Linked DNA regions of Homo sapiens. The gene in region 1 interacts genetically with each later gene. Each region holds a gene or a part of one and is shown in the gene's direction. Other genes may lie near its edges.

The links.
Region 2: of HDAC7 (region 1) and AKAP12, a change in one rescues a mutant of the other (synthetic rescue), as found in Homo sapiens cells (one study listed by BioGRID).

Annotation. Positions count from the first base shown.
Region 1 is NC_000012.12:47,816,890-47,823,893, reverse strand, and holds the start of HDAC7 (histone deacetylase 7), read left to right. Parts: upstream 1-3,990; 5' UTR 3,991-4,108; coding exon 4,109-4,127; intron 4,128-7,004. UniProt on the Homo sapiens protein: Responsible for the deacetylation of lysine residues on the N-terminal part of the core histones (H2A, H2B, H3 and H4).
Region 2 is NC_000006.12:151,234,977-151,242,976, forward strand, and holds the start of AKAP12 (A-kinase anchor protein 12), read left to right. Parts: upstream 1-4,990; 5' UTR 4,991-5,083; intron 5,084-5,407; 5' UTR 5,408-5,586; coding exon 5,587-5,748; intron 5,749-8,000. UniProt on the Homo sapiens protein: Anchoring protein that mediates the subcellular compartmentation of protein kinase A (PKA) and protein kinase C (PKC).

The DNA of each region.
Region 1 (7,004 bases):
ATTGCACAGGCTCTGAATCAGACATACTTGGGATTAAGTAACTTACTGGCTCTGTGGCCTTGGGCAGATCATTTTGTCTTTCTGAGTTTTACTTTGCTCATGGAAACAATGGGGATAATAATGAGATTTAAGTGAAAGGGCTTTGAACAGCGTGCGATATGTAGAACATGCTCAATAAATCCTAAATTATCTTTCCTTCCTTCTTTTTCTTCCACTCCTTCCTTCCCTCTCTCCTTCCCTCTCTCCTTCCCTCCCTCCTTCCTTTCCTTCCTTCCTTCCTTTTTTTCCTTTTCTTCCTTCCTTTCTTCTTTCCTTCCTTTCTCCCTTCTTCCTTTTTTTCCTTTTCTTCCTTCCTTTCTTCTTTCCTTCCCGTACTTCTTATATCTCTTATGTCTGGTCCCATGAAACCCTTTATTTGGAGTTGGGGACCTAATCTCCCTTACTAATCTGCAAGTCCCAAACCCTGAGAATTGGCATTTGATTCCAGATCCAGAAACTGAAATGCAAGATCCAAACTAACCCAATACAATGAGTGTCCACTGAGATCTCACTGAACTGAGGCCTTGGGGAAGGAGCACTTTCTGGTTGGCTTTGTGCGAAGTGTGTGAGGATAAGTGCAGGCTGGCGGAGGAATTGTGGCTATGGCCCCCACATCTAGAAGGTTGGGAACGGAGGGTATCAGAAAGTTTGGATAATTTTCTGGGGCTTTAAATCCTGGCACAAAGTAGGCACCCAATAATATTTGTTGAATGAATGAATGGCCCTGTCACTTACTAGTTGTGCAACTTTGATCAGGTTTCTTAACCATAAAGGCCATGCTTTACTCATGAGCATAACAAGGATTATTGTTAAGAATAAATGATCTAATGTTTGTCCAGGGGATAGCAAGGACTGCTACGCAGTAAATGGTAAACAGTAGCTAACTAAGGAAAGAAGGAGAGGAAAAGGAGAAGAGAAGGTCAAGTAGGCCCAGAGTCCCAAAGGGAAGCAGATTGGGGTGCCCTCAGGCTTTGTGCTGGCCGGAGACTCTAGGGAAGGCTCAGGAAGCCAAGGCACGTCTTTTGGGGCCAGTCTCTTCTGCTAGGTGTTCAGCTGAGAAAGCTATGAGAGGCCTGGACTCAAGAGCTTTTTAAAAAAAGGCTCCCCACGGTAACCAGGCTAGAAGAGAGAGAGGTAGCTTGCATTTCTCTGTCTCATGTCTCTAAGGTTCTTGGAGGCTTTCTAATTTATCCTGGTAGGGGACATGTGACTTAGAAACTGGCTTAGGACTCTGCCATGAGGCGGGGTCTGGTAAGTAAATCTGGCAGGGGAAGGAGAGACACAGTCCAGCTTTCCCAGATGCAGGTTGCACATGCTGTCTTTTTCTCTGACTATATGTTGGAGGCAGTGAGTCCTGGTGTGTAGAAAGCCACATGTTGGGCACTGTGTGGACAGACAGGCAGGGAGATAGCCTCTTAATTCAGATCACTCAAAACTCAGTGATGAGTTTAAAAAGAGAAAGAAGACTCACAAATAAATGTATGCACAATGCACATGGTAGAAATGAGCATAAAAGGGCCTGGCTTTACTACAGAAATAGCTACAGAAAAGCTACGGATATGTGTGTGTTGGGGGTTGGGATCAATTGTGGAGCTAGACAAGGGAGATAGCAGGCATGTCGCTGGGGGTCTGCAGTAACCAAGCAGTTTTTCTGGAGTCTGTGGACACCAAAGAGGCATTTGGAAGGAGGATGATCTGGCTTGGAATTGAGGGCTGGGGATGACATACCTAAGGTGGAACAGCATGTGTCTTGGAGAGTCAGCATGGGTAGTTATGGGGTGAAAGAATGTACTGTAGGTGTCCAGCTGGAGAAGGGTTCTTGAAAGTCATGAACATCTGTCCCAATTCAACAAATAACTCACATCAAGTTTGAATTCTGTGCAAGACACTACAAGAAATGCACCCATGACCAAGGCAGTAGCTGGACTCAGGGATATCCACTCTTGAATGCTCTTGGAAGGAAGAGAGTTGAGACAAGTAGACTAGGTGGGCGAAGGTCAATGTATAAAGACCACACAGTTCAGGGAAGAATTCCTCTTGGCTATGGGAATCCGGGAAAGCCTCCCGGAGAAAGTGGTATGCCACTTTCTTTTTCTTCCAGTCCTTCCTTCCTTCCTTCCTTCCTTCCCTCCCTCCCTCCCTCCCACTAGATAGGGAGTGGGTCTTGAGGATTGGAAAGATTTCAACAGAAGGAGAAAGGGGCTGGGAGGACATTTCTTTTGGAGGCAGCATGATGAGCGAAGGCAAGGGAGTGTGGAAGCGTGAGGACAGGATGGGAAGCAGCTAGCAGCCCAGTCTGGCAGAAATAATGATAGTAATAATAGTGACTAACACTACTGAGCCCTAAGTACCAGGAGGCACTGGGCAGGGATGTGTATGGAGTGTGGTGCCAGGTTGTAGGAGGACTTGAATGCCAGGAAAGGCTTTTGGGAGGGTAAGTTAACAAGCGCAGAGGGGTTGGATCTGCCTGCCGAAGGAGAACTGGGACAAGGAAAGGGGCTGAAGTAAGAAGTCCCACGCTGAATATGCCGGTAGCAACAGATAGTGAGTCCCGAGCTGTGCCTGAGGGAAGGGAATAGAATCTATGGTTTGAAGTTCACCGCCAGCATGGCCAAGCCCTCCTAGGCCACTGTGGGCTCTTGCTTCCAATCAGACATGACTCCACCTCTGGGGCTGCCTCAATTTTTCCTTCTCTGGATTCTTGGGGTTTCTTAGGATTGCGGGAGATAGAATGGGGTCAGGGGAAGCTGCTCCTTGGTTTACAATGGTGGCGCCTCACGCTGCAGAGAGCCCAGTGTTCCTGCGTGGTGGACCTCTCCCCTTCCTAGGAGCAGCTCCAGATTGCTGGAGGCAGACACGGCTGACCGGCTAGCCCAGGAAGCACAATGGCGAGGTCCTTAGCCCCTGACCCCTGAATCTGACCTTCTCTCCAGCTAAAAGCGGAGGGAGAGGCAGGGAGGGCCACTGCCTAAAGCCGGCCCTGAGCTGAGTTTATTAGCTGAGGGAGGGCTGGAGGCGGCTGCATTCCGACTCACAGACTGGAACATTTCTGTGATCCGCTGTAATGCACTGGGGGACACTGGGCACATTGCTGAAGTTTGACTCATAGGGACCGGGAGGGGGAAAGAGGGGGGTTGTGGAGGGAGAGGAATGGGAGGAAGAGAGGAAGAGGAGAGGAGGGAAGGAAGTCCCTTGAGAAATTTCTTTAAAAAAAGAAAACTTTCAAAATCTGCACCACCCCCACACCCTTTTTCTTTTAATAGGAACAGGCTGGACCCTTCCGTTCCCCTCAGCAGGCATGGTGTGTGTGTGGGGGTGCCAGTGGGGGAGGGCTGGGCAGTGATTCAAATCAGATCCTGGAACTTTCCTGAGGCAAGTCGTGCTTATGTGTGTGTGTGTGTGGTGGGGGGTGTCCGTCTGGGATTCCTTGTATGGGACATGGGACACCACGCGTGTCCCACTGTGCCCGCGTGTGGCTGCGTGCTTGTGGGCTGTACGGGTATGTAGTGTGTGCACGGGGGTCCACCCCGAAGCCCCAGTGTGTGCTGTGTAAATGATTCTGCCCCTTGTAAACATGGATGCGTGCTCGTGTACGTTGTGTATGCGAGGGTGCGTGCGCCCAGGTAGCTGGGTTTCCGGGAATTGTGCACGGCTCGGAGCGCCTCGCGGCGGCTGGGGCTCGGAGCCGCGGCCGGCGTTCCGGGTTCGGCGCTGCCTCCCCGGCAGTGCGCCGCGCCCCGCCGCGATCTGGCCGCGCGCGGTGTCTGCGGCCCGCCTGTGCGCCGCGCGGTGCAGTGTCTGCCGGGGTGGTGTGTCCCAGGGCCGCGAGCGCCTGCCCCCTCCCTCCCCTCCCCCTTGGCCCGCTCTCAGACTCAGATAAAGCATTTCCTTCCATTGTCATCCTACCCGGCCGGCCGGGCTGCCAGGGCCCTCCCCCTCCCGGCCCCCTCCCTTCCTCTCGCCGTCTCACAGTCGCTCTGCAGCCTCCGGCGACTGGGGGGATGTGAGGCCGGCGCCCCAGCCCCCCGCCCCGCCATGAGCCCCCCGCTCTGAGGGCCCCGGCCCCTGGATGCACAGCCCCGGCGCTGGTGAGTACTGGGCGGCCGCCCCCCGCCCCGCCCTGCGCGCGGCACCCAGCGTCGCCCGCCCAGGCTCGGCCTCCGGCCCTGGCCCCGGCTCCGGCTCCGGCTCCGGCTCGGGCTCCCGCCAGCCCCGCGGGCCCAGCCCGGCTTGCGCCCCCCGACCGCGCCTGTCCCGCCCGGCTCCGCGGGGCTCTGGCAGGCTCCGGGTCGGAGCTGGTTCCGGGGGCCGGAGGGCTCGGGCCTCCCGCGGGGCGCCCACATCCGCCCGCCCCGGGGCAGCTACAGGCCCAAGGGAGGGAGTTGGAGGCCCCGGCCGCCGGTGTGCGGGCCCCACGTCCCATCACCCCTGTTCCCGGGGAGGACGAGCCGAGGGACCGGGGAGGGAGGGACGGCCGCGGTGGCCCGGCGAGGGGGCGGTGCTCCGGGGCGGAAGGTTTGGAAGCGCGAGGGCAAAGGGCAGGACCCACTGAGTTGGGGCTGGGCTTTGTGGGGCTGGACATCAGCGCCCCCATCCCGTGGAGCCGGGCAGGGCCCTACTCAGATCCTTCGGCGGGGAAAGAGGTCCCTTGGAGGGGTCTCTGGCTGGGAGGTTTCTCTGAGCATTGCCCCCCATCCTTGCTCACCCATCAGGGTGAAGAGACACCTGTGCCCTGGTGAGCTGTGGAGGTCAATGCCGGCAGCGGCGCGGGAAGCGGGGCGCCGCAGGCTGTGTGAGGGGTGGGGGACAGGATGTGCACCCCCCAGGCCTGGGGTCTGTTGGTGTTGGGGAGTGTGAGAGCAGGCGGCAAATTTGGCGGATGGGCTGGGTTCCCACGACCAGAGTTTCTAGGCCTGTGGGCCAGGAGAGAGCCCTCTGGGGCCCGCAGGCCACCCAGTGCCCCACCCCCATTGCTTCCCGCTGTGGCTGCCCGTTTGGGTCTGACCTCCCCAGCCACGGCTGCTCCTCACTCCTTCTCCCCGCTGGCTGTCTTGCGCACCCAAAGGCCTCCCCCTGCATCTGGACACTGGCTGTCTCGCTGCCAACGCTCCCTGCCCACTCCCCTAGGCAACATCTGCCTGAGGCCCAGCTCTGCCTGCCGCTTTCTAGGGTGAGAATGGGGCATCGGCCCTCAGCGGCCCTGCTGGGAGCTCAAGATCAACTTCTCAGCCTGTTCCCTGGACTTGCATCTGGACCTGTGGGACCTTCCTCAGGACCCCTATTCAGCTATAGGGCTGGCAGGAGACTGTGACTCAGGTCCCTGCCCTCCAATGAGACGCTTTGGCGGCCCTTTCCCCCTCCCAGGACTCCATAGGCTGCTAGGCTGCCGCTACCCATGGGTTATTAAGTCATTTTCTTCTTCTCTGCAGTCATTTCTGAGGGAAACTAAGGCACAGAGTAGTCCCAGTGAGTGGTACCCAGCCCAGTGAACCTAGACTGGAACCAGGTCTTGGACCTATTGGGACTGGTCCTCTGCCTTTAGTCCCCTGATGTCCCTCCTTGCCCAGCAGGGCCAGGCTCAGAGGCAAGCTCAGAGCTGCCTCCTGATGTTGCACCTGGAATGGTCCTGGTGCAGTGTTCTCCAGAGGCCTCTGTGTCCCTTATTCGGCGGGTGTCTCTGTGGCCACCGGGTCTTACAGTGGGTTTTGGGGCAGGGAAGTTTGCATGTCTAAGCTGTTCACTCCACTTTGACACTGAAGTTCAGTTTCCCCATCAGTAAAATGGGGAGAAAATTCCAAGCACACTTCTCAGAGCAGAGCAGAAGAGGTTGACTATGGAGAGGAGAATGAAGGTACTGTGCTATTATCCACCCCCTCCAGTTTGCTTAGGGATAATGGACCTCAGCTTTAGTCCTTGGTGGCCTCTTGGCATGGAAGCTGGAACTTTCTCAATTCTGATATAAAACCCTTGAGCAAGAGAGAAACTCATGTGTGATGGGGTAGGGAGTGGGGACCCTCTGGTAGCTGTGGGCAAGCATGCCCAAGGACTTGGAAGACAGAAGCCTGTGGAACCCCATCTCCTCTTTGCCTTCTTTCTCCTGGCCTTTCATTAAGGGCTGGTAATTTTGAAGTCGGCAGGGGCCTGAGAGAAGGTGAGCTAATGCAAGGCCCAGGGTCACACAGCCAGGGAATGGCAGGCGGAGGGGGCCAGAACCAGGCCTTCTCACTCTGCCAGTGCCCATTCTGCTGGCCCACCCTCCACAGCTTGGCTCTCCCTGGCCTGCCCTCAGTTAGACTTCGGACTGAGGCCTCCAGTGGGGTGTGGGGTATTGCTGGAAGCAGGGCCTGAATAAAGTCTGGGGCTAGCGGGAGGGCATCTGTCCTCCCGGAGGCTCCCAGGACTGTGCATTTGTGTGTGTTGGATTTGTTCACTAGATGGGGCACTTCCTTTGGGGCAGGAAGCTTTGATTTCCTGTGGTGATGGTGAGGAGGGGTTGGTAAGGATTAGGAGTGGGGGGCTCAGCTCTGGGCCATCCTCGATGTTGTTGTTTGGAACCACGGAGGGGCAGAGTTTCTGCTTAAGACTGCTTCTCCCAGCTCTGGGGAGGCAGGAAGGAGAGCCTTGGTGAGGAGGCCCAGGCCAAGGCTGGAGAAGGAGGCTGTGAGAGCAGTGAGCTGGGGGTGGGCAACACAGCAGGAAGCCCGGTCAGCAGGTGACCCTGCCGGGTATTGTGTTTCCTTGTAATATTTTCCCCCTGTTTCTGTGGTAACCTTCCCTGGAGGCCCCAGGCCTTAGGGCTACAGGAAGGTGCCCCCAGACAGCCCTTTCCTTAGAGGCCTGAGTATTAGGAGGAGTCCCCAGATCTAGCCACCTCCCTAACCCTTTTGGCTCCCTAGGATCAGGGGCCTGGGAATCTAGGCGAGTGGCCTGAGTGAGCATGGACTCGCGGGCTGGGGGAAGGCCCT
Region 2 (8,000 bases), on another chromosome or scaffold:
ATTTGGGCATGTTTATATAGGTTTATTGCTATTGTTATGATTTTAAAAGCATTTAGCAAGCTAACTTAAAGGAATACAAAATAAACATTAGATCAGGTTATCCACCTTTCCTTTGTGTATTGCTAGTTGAGATGTTTATCAATTCACAACCTAATCTTTTTTTCTTTTTTATTTTTTTTGAGACAGAGTCTTACTCTTTCGCCCAGGCTGGAGTGCAGTGGCGCGATCTTGGCTCACTGCAACCTCCATCTCCCAGGTTCAAGCAATTCTCCTGCCTCAGCCTCCCAAGTAGCTGGGATTACAGGCGCACACCACCACGCTTGGCTAATTTTTGTATCTTTTTAAAGTAGAGACGGGGTTTCACCATGTTGGCCAGGCTGGTCTCAAACTCCTGACCTCAGGTGATCCACCCGCCTCCGCCTCCCAAAGTGCTGGGATTATAGATGTGAGCCACCGCACCAGGCCACAAAGGGATTTAAGTTGGTAGAGGAACATAAAATCTACAGTTCACATCGTATAATATATTGTATAATAGCTTTGTTTTGAGTGCGCAATGTTGACTTATTGAAGCAAAGTTTCCAACTTTGAAAAGTCCTCTGCATTTTGCCTGGCACTCAACTCAGTGAAAGTTTATTTAATTAATATGTGAAAAATATATATTTTAATGTTGGATACTTATAGGGTCCTTTGTAGAAGGGATTTGAAATTGTGAGGATTACAGCCACTTGATCTACCCTGGAATGTAGACACCTTCCACATACCTTCTGGTATCTTCTAACAGTGCATCCTGAGAAATTCTTTCTCCATATTGGACACATCATTTACTCTATCTTGGTTCCAGTCCCTCCTTTGTTACTTGAGAGTAATCCTGAATTTGAGTCAGGCACCAATCTTAAACCTTGGTAAATGAAACTGAGATCCAAATAGCTGGCTTTATACTTAACTCCAAAGCAATAAATTCCTTAAGAGTTACAAGGATAGCATTTGCCTATATATATATACGTGATGTATGTCTACAAGCGGCTGAGCTTTAAACTTCATCTGTAAATTGAACATTTTCTGTAGCTTCCATATGAATTTTAGATTATTAAGTACTCATGAATTGAATACAACTGTTAATTCTTCTAGTTTATAATTAGCAAATTATAATTAATGCTCTAAAATAATCCGTCTCAAATCCTCACATAGAAAGTAAAATTCAAATAATTTACTCACAGTTTCTTCCATAGACTTCTCAACAGGGTAATAACATTATTCTTGGTTATTTATTTTCCAGGCCATGTAAATGTTAATATTCTTATTTGTAAAAAGTAAAATCATATCTTAAGAGATGCATGCGCACATTCTAGTACTCTCTATTCTGCCTGAAACAGCTCTGTGATAAGGGAGTATTAAGAATAACAAATTCACACGAGCACAAGATAGAGTGGGAATTAGGTTCTTAGATGACTGGATATCTCTGTGGGAACAACTGGTTTAGAAAGAAGTAGGTGTTTTATCCAGGGAAAACAAAGAAGTTATAATCAAGAGAGAAGCAGTTTCAAAGGTGAAGGTGAAGAGTTGCCAGTCTCAGCGAAGGCTTTGTAACTAGAGAATGAATCTTTAGGGTAGAGTTAACGGTAGATTTTAAACTGTTTTAATAATTAAAATTATTATTGCACTTTGAAGGGGGTGTCTGAACTCAGTTGTAAAATGTTTGACATTTGTGAATTCCTTTAATGTTATATTTGAAACTGTTTTGGTGCATGCACAAGGTGCCCAACTATGACTCTACATTTTATTGTTAAACCTCATGTGACCCGTCTTTCTGGAGAAGTATGTGTGCGAAGTACAGGTTCAGCCTGCTACACAGGCAACATGTATTTGTTTTTGAGAAATCTCAAACTGTGTTTATGAGAGAATTAACCCTCTCAGGGAAACAGCTCTACCAACGACTGCCCCATGGGAGAGGATGTGTGGGGACACCTGCATCCTGCTATTTGGAGAAAAATTGAGCTGCTGGTGAGACATTGAACCAACAGCCTTGGACTGAGAAGTGAAAAATAGAGAACACCTGCCTCCCCTCTACTCTGATGCCAATCCAAGCAATTCCGAAGGCATCTTGGAAGCCCTAGAAAAGAAAACCTCAGTGACTCGATTTAGAACCTTGGAAACTAGAGTGGTAACTTTGTGCTTGGCACATAATAGGTACTTGATAGAAATTTATTGAAAGAAAGAAAGAGAAGAAGGAAAGAAAGAAAAAGAAAGAAAGAACAGAGAAGAAGGAAAGAAAGAAAAAGAAAGAAAGAAAGAAAAGTAAAAAAAGTAACAAACTTTGTAGCATTCTGAAGCACTAAGTGGCATACCCAAAAGGTTGGGCTATTTCATCGCTAGAGGTCATTAATAACACAACCACTTTTCTTTTCTTCTCTTTTTTTTTTTTGAGACAGGGTCTCACTATGTCATCCAGGCTGCAGTCTGGAACTCCTGGGCTCAAGTGATCCTCCCGCCTCAGCCTCCCAAGTAGCTAGGACTACAGGCATGCACCACCACTCCTGGCTAAATTTTTTTTTATTTTTTGTAGAGATGGGAGTTTCACTGTGTTGCCCAGGCTGGTCTTGAACCCCTGGTGTCAAGCAATCCTTCCACTTCAACCTCCCAAAGTGCTGGGATTACAGGCGTGAGCCACCGCGCCCAGCGCAATGATTTTACTTTTTACAAATAAGAGTATGAACATTTACATGGCCTGGAAAATAAACAAAAAGCAAGTAACTGCTAATCTAAGCAGATGCTGATATCTTCCTCAGCACGTAGGTTGTACACTGTTGGCTTGACCCTGCAATCCTTTCTGAAAATTTAAAGGGTAGTAGATGTGAAAAGCTTTGCTAAGAATTTCCCAGGAACAAAGTAAATATAATCTCACAGAATGTGAAAATGTTGATAGTATTTGTGCTACTTACTGATACATTTTCAAATGTGCTGACGTTAATCATTCTCAAATAGTTTTTTTTTTCTTCTTCTTTTTTTTTTTTTGGGACGGAGTCTTAATCTGTCATCCAGGCTGGCGTGCAATGGCATGATCTCAGCTCACTGCAACCTCCACCTCCCAGGTTCAAGCAGTTCTCGTGTCTTGGCCTCCTGAGTAGCTGGGATTACAGACACGCGCCACCATGCCTGGCTAATTTTTGTACTTTTAGTAGAGACGGGGTTTCACCATGTTGCCCAGGCTGGTCTTGAACTACTGTCCTCAGGTGATCCACCCACCTCGGCCTCCCAAAGTGCTGGGATTACAGGTGTAAGCCACCACACCTGGCCTCAAGTAGGTTTTAACAGTGCTTTTTGCTCTTAAAATCCTAAGTGAGGTCCAAATGCCACGTTTCAGTAACACCTCTGAGAGGAGAGAACACAGTTGATTGAAAGGGAAGGGGAGTGCCATGCGGTGGTGAAGCGTGGACCCTGAAAGCAGATGCCAGTTGGACTTCCTGCTCTTCCAACTCCTGGCTGTGAAACCTGAAGCACACAATTTAATTTCTCCGGGCCTACTCCTCCCCCTCCTGCCAATGGTAAAATGAGAATAATACTATCTATCCCATGGGGTTATTGTAAAGATTATTATGTAAAGTGCATTGAACAGTGCCTGGTACAGAGTAAGAATTCTAATGTTTCCTAAATAGTCAAAATTTAAGTCAAAATGGGGGAAATGTGTATAAATTCCTAAAACTAAGCATTTTGCAAATATACTGTTTCTTAAGAGATAAACTCCAGAGAAATTGGCCTTCGTGTAGTCCTTTAAATAAAAATAATTAATTCAGAAAACAGGCCCAGTGTGGTGGTTCACACCTATAATCCCAGCACTTTGAGAGGCCAAGGCAGGAGGATCGCTTGAGCTCAGGAGTTCAACACTAGCCTGGGCAACACAGCGAGACCTTGTCTCAAAAAAAGAAAAAGAAAAAAAATTAATTCAGAAAACAAATTTGATGGTGAGTAACTAACCTATGGTTCCCAGGGTACCATTCGATTCATGCAATTCATTAGGCATGAAACATCCTAGTGCTGAACTACTGCTTACACCCTTTCTACAAAATTGTACTAAATCTGAGTATGAGATATTTATCTGGAATTTGGTGTGAATATTCCGAAAGTTTCTTCCTTCTTTCTTTCTTTTTTTTTTTTGACAGAATCTTGCTCTGTCGACTAGGATGGAGTGCAGAGGCACAGTCATAGCTCACTGCAGCCTCGAATTCCTGGGCTGAAGTCATCCTTCTACCCCAGCGTCCCCAGCCTCCTGAGTAGCTAGGACTACAGGTGCACCACTGCGCCTGGCTAATTTTTTTATTTTTTGTAGAGACAAGGTCTCGCTATGTTAACCAGGCTGGTTTCTTCATTCTTAATGGAGATTCAAAGTATTTGTGAAAACTGGGGCACTCGGTTGCTAGTTACAACTGGAATAAATTTTGTCTTTCAGCCCCAAAGCCTTAATGCTTTGCGCCAAGCAATCCAGCTACAAATTTAATTTAGTTCAAATACTTATTGATTGGCTGCCATGCTCATGTAATACATATTATATTCAAGGGTCGGAAATGAAAGGATGCAAGCCACTTGTGCTGGTATTATTTAAAGTCTTCATCTTTTGAGAAAGGCTGACGGCAAAGGAACAGATCTATGCTGTCATGTGTCGGCATCGCGCGGAGCAGAGGTGGCCTGGATGGGTAACTTCCAGCACAGGCCCTCAAAGAAGGACGGGCACATTTCCGGTAACAGCCTCATTTCCCCCCGTTCCCCGGGGGAAGGGGGGCGGCTAGCACTGCTGATGGCATCGCCTGACATCACTTGTTCCGGAGGATAGGAGAGCGTGGGCCTGCGTGGCCCACCTCATCCGTGGCCTGACTGCGTTAACCTCTCGGTTCCCTGCTCTTGCCACGTGAGGTGCCCAAATATGGTCGGACTCAGGAGGAGCCAGGGAGCGCTTGCCTTTCTCCTGCTAATGGGGAGGAGGCTGGAACAAATGTTTGGAGTTAAACACAATCTGCAGGAAAGCAAATGGGGACTCGGACTCGCTCCTGGGCGAGCTGAAAGTCGGCTGCAGCAGAAGCTCCTGCCTTGGGTGATCCATCATTTAATAAACCCCAGAGAATCCAGTGTCCCCGGCAGGCTTTTTGCTCCCCTGCTCTCTTGCCTTCTGAGGCCCTGGGTCGTCCCCGCAGCTCTAGTCGCCCTGTTAGAAACGGGAGGCGCCCGAGGGCCGGGTGGGCGGCTGCCTGGACCTGGGCTGGCGCGTCGCAGCGCCTCTGGTCCCGGCAGCCTGGGGGCAGATGCTGCTGCAGGGCGTGTCTGGGGCTGTGCTCATGTGATGAAGCGAGGGAAAAACCGGGGGGAGGGGGGCGGAGGCTAAGAGGTGGCCTTTTTTTTTTTTTCCTTTTCTTTTAAGGAGTTTGCCGCGAGCGCGTCTCCTTCATTCGCAGGCTGGGCGCGTTCGCAGTCGGCTGGCGGCGAAGGAAGGCGCTCTCGGGACCTCGCGGGCGCGCGTCTTTTGGCTCTTGCCCCTGTCCCTGCGGCTTGGGGAAGGCGTAACCCGGCGGCTAGGCGCGGGAGAAGTGCGGAGGAGCCATGGGCGCCGGGAGCTCCACCGAGCAGCGCAGCCCGGAGCAGCCGCCCGAGGGGAGCTCCACGCCGGCTGAGCCCGAGCCCAGCGGCGGCGGCCCCTCGGCCGAGGCGGCGCCAGACACCACCGCGGACCCCGCCATCGCTGCCTCGGACCCCGCCACCAAGGTACGGGCGTGCCGGGCCACCTGCGCCGGGAGGCGCGGGTCTTTGGGGGTGGGGGTGGGGGTGGGGGGGTCCCTCCGATTTCCGCCGAGAGAACTTCCCAGCCCATCCAGCCGCATCTGCAAACTCAGGAGTGCGAACCCCTCTTTGGAGGCTTTTCAGGGTCTTTCGCGCCGGGGCGGGGCCAGAGCAGCGGCGAGCGCGGCGGGGGGCTTGCATCTTTGTCGCGGGTCTCCAGGGGAGGCGACTGCGCCATGCGCAATAATAAAACCCGCGCCCTGCCCACGGCGGCTGAGCCTTTCTGCGCACTCTTCCGGTGGGAGCCATGCAGCCCGAGGCGGAGGAGCTGCGCGGAGGGGGATCCGTGGAGAATGGACCCCGGGCCGGGCCTCCGGAGCTCCGAGATGCGGAAAGTCAGCTGTGAGGCCAGGACTCGTGGTGGAGCCCGCCGGGGAGCCCAGCCACCCTCGGGTTCCCCGTCGCGTACCGCCCTGGATGCCAGCGGTGCCTGGAGCGAGCGGGTTTGGTACCCAGTCCTCCTGCGGCAGCGGCCCGAGCAGGCACCGCCTTCCCGAGGCAGAGAAAGCCTGGGGTGTAGCTCGCTCAGAGCCAGGAAAAACCTGGGCAGGCGCTGCGTTTCCAGAAGGAATGACAGGTTTCGCAAACCAGCCAGCGCCCTCGCGTTCGCTCAGCGCTTTGCCTGCAGACTCAGTTGGCCAAACACACGCTAGAGTGGCTAGAAGTTCTCAAAGGATGGGGTCAGTGTAACGAGCATTCCGGGTACTCTTCCCTGGACGCAGTGCTGAAACGACTGCATTTTATCGGCTTCAGTCTTCAAGGCTGGAATATTTCTTGTGGGCCAGGACAGCCGCCAAGACTGTGGCTTGTTCTGGTCGTGGTATTTTAGATCTATTTTCCAGCGCATGTGTTCATTAGCAAGGCTTCACTCTACTGATTTTGTGATACCCTTGTATCACAAAGGTACCCTTGTGATACCTTGTAGAAAGATGTGGATAACCATGTTTAATAGTTAAATTTGCGGTATGTCAAATTTGAGGATAGAGTACGTGAGTTATCGCAGGAGGTGTAGATGTTTACAATATGCAAAAAAAAAAAAAAAAAGGAACCTACAACCATGACCTAATTGCCTTGACCTCCTTAGCTGCCCTAGTCTCTTTTGGGCTGAGAGACTGCTGTTAATAATATAGTTTTTACCGCCAGTCTTTGATTCATAACTACTTGTAAAATCCATGGTCCCTAGATATTAAGTACTAACTGTGTCTCTGTGCTATGTAGGTTTTTCTAAGAGATGCTTAAGCTTCTGGCCTGAGGAATGTACTGTCCTTTTGAGATTCAAGTCGCATTTTAATACTTACTGTATGCACATAATGTTTTGATGCCAGCTACTGTCAAAGTGGCTCTGTAACCAGTGGTCAGAGTCTAGCGATGAAAATAATTTTAAGGTATAATTGCTAAAAACTTGCAGTTGGGTGACATTCCCCCCACCGCCCCGGCTTTTATACTCCTTCAGATCTTACTAACTGTTCACCCTGAAATATGGGATTTAATCCCTTCCCAGTAAACTTGAATTTGTTTATTTAAAAATATTCCTTCCATTCTCTTTTTCCGTCTTCCATAACCTTATCCTTTTCCTCTTTCCAAGTTGCCAACCGTCTTGAAGCAACCAAACAACCTCCTTTTAAAAAATCACTTAAATGACATCCAGAATATCATTGAACTTGTTGGCATAATGCCCAGTTATCAATTTGGAGACAAATCAGTGCACTTACATGTATCCTTGGAATGTATTTAGTTTTCATTTGAACTAGCCAAATTTATCACTCAGGCTTTGAACACAAATGTCTTTTCAAAAGGACTCCCCAATTAAGAATGACTCAGCACCATGGCCCTTGCCTCCCCTCTTCTTGTTAAGCTCCAATTCCTGACCTCCAAGTAATCCCATCTCCCACTCTAGGCTCCGTGGCACCATGGACCCGTCCCAGCAGTTTTCACATGTGTGGGTTTAGTGTTCTTGCTGTTGTGAATACTTCGCAGGGGCAGGGAACACGCCTGGTTGTGCCGACCAACGGTGTTCCTTCATGCGTGCCATGTTGCCTGGCACAGAGGCAGCTCTCAGGAATACTTGTGGAAAGAGGAAGGGGTGATATTGGCTCCTTGGTTTTGATTGGAAAATATCAAGTTGGAGAATACCTTGACCTATCTGATTTTACTACAATTTAACCCTTGATCATTTC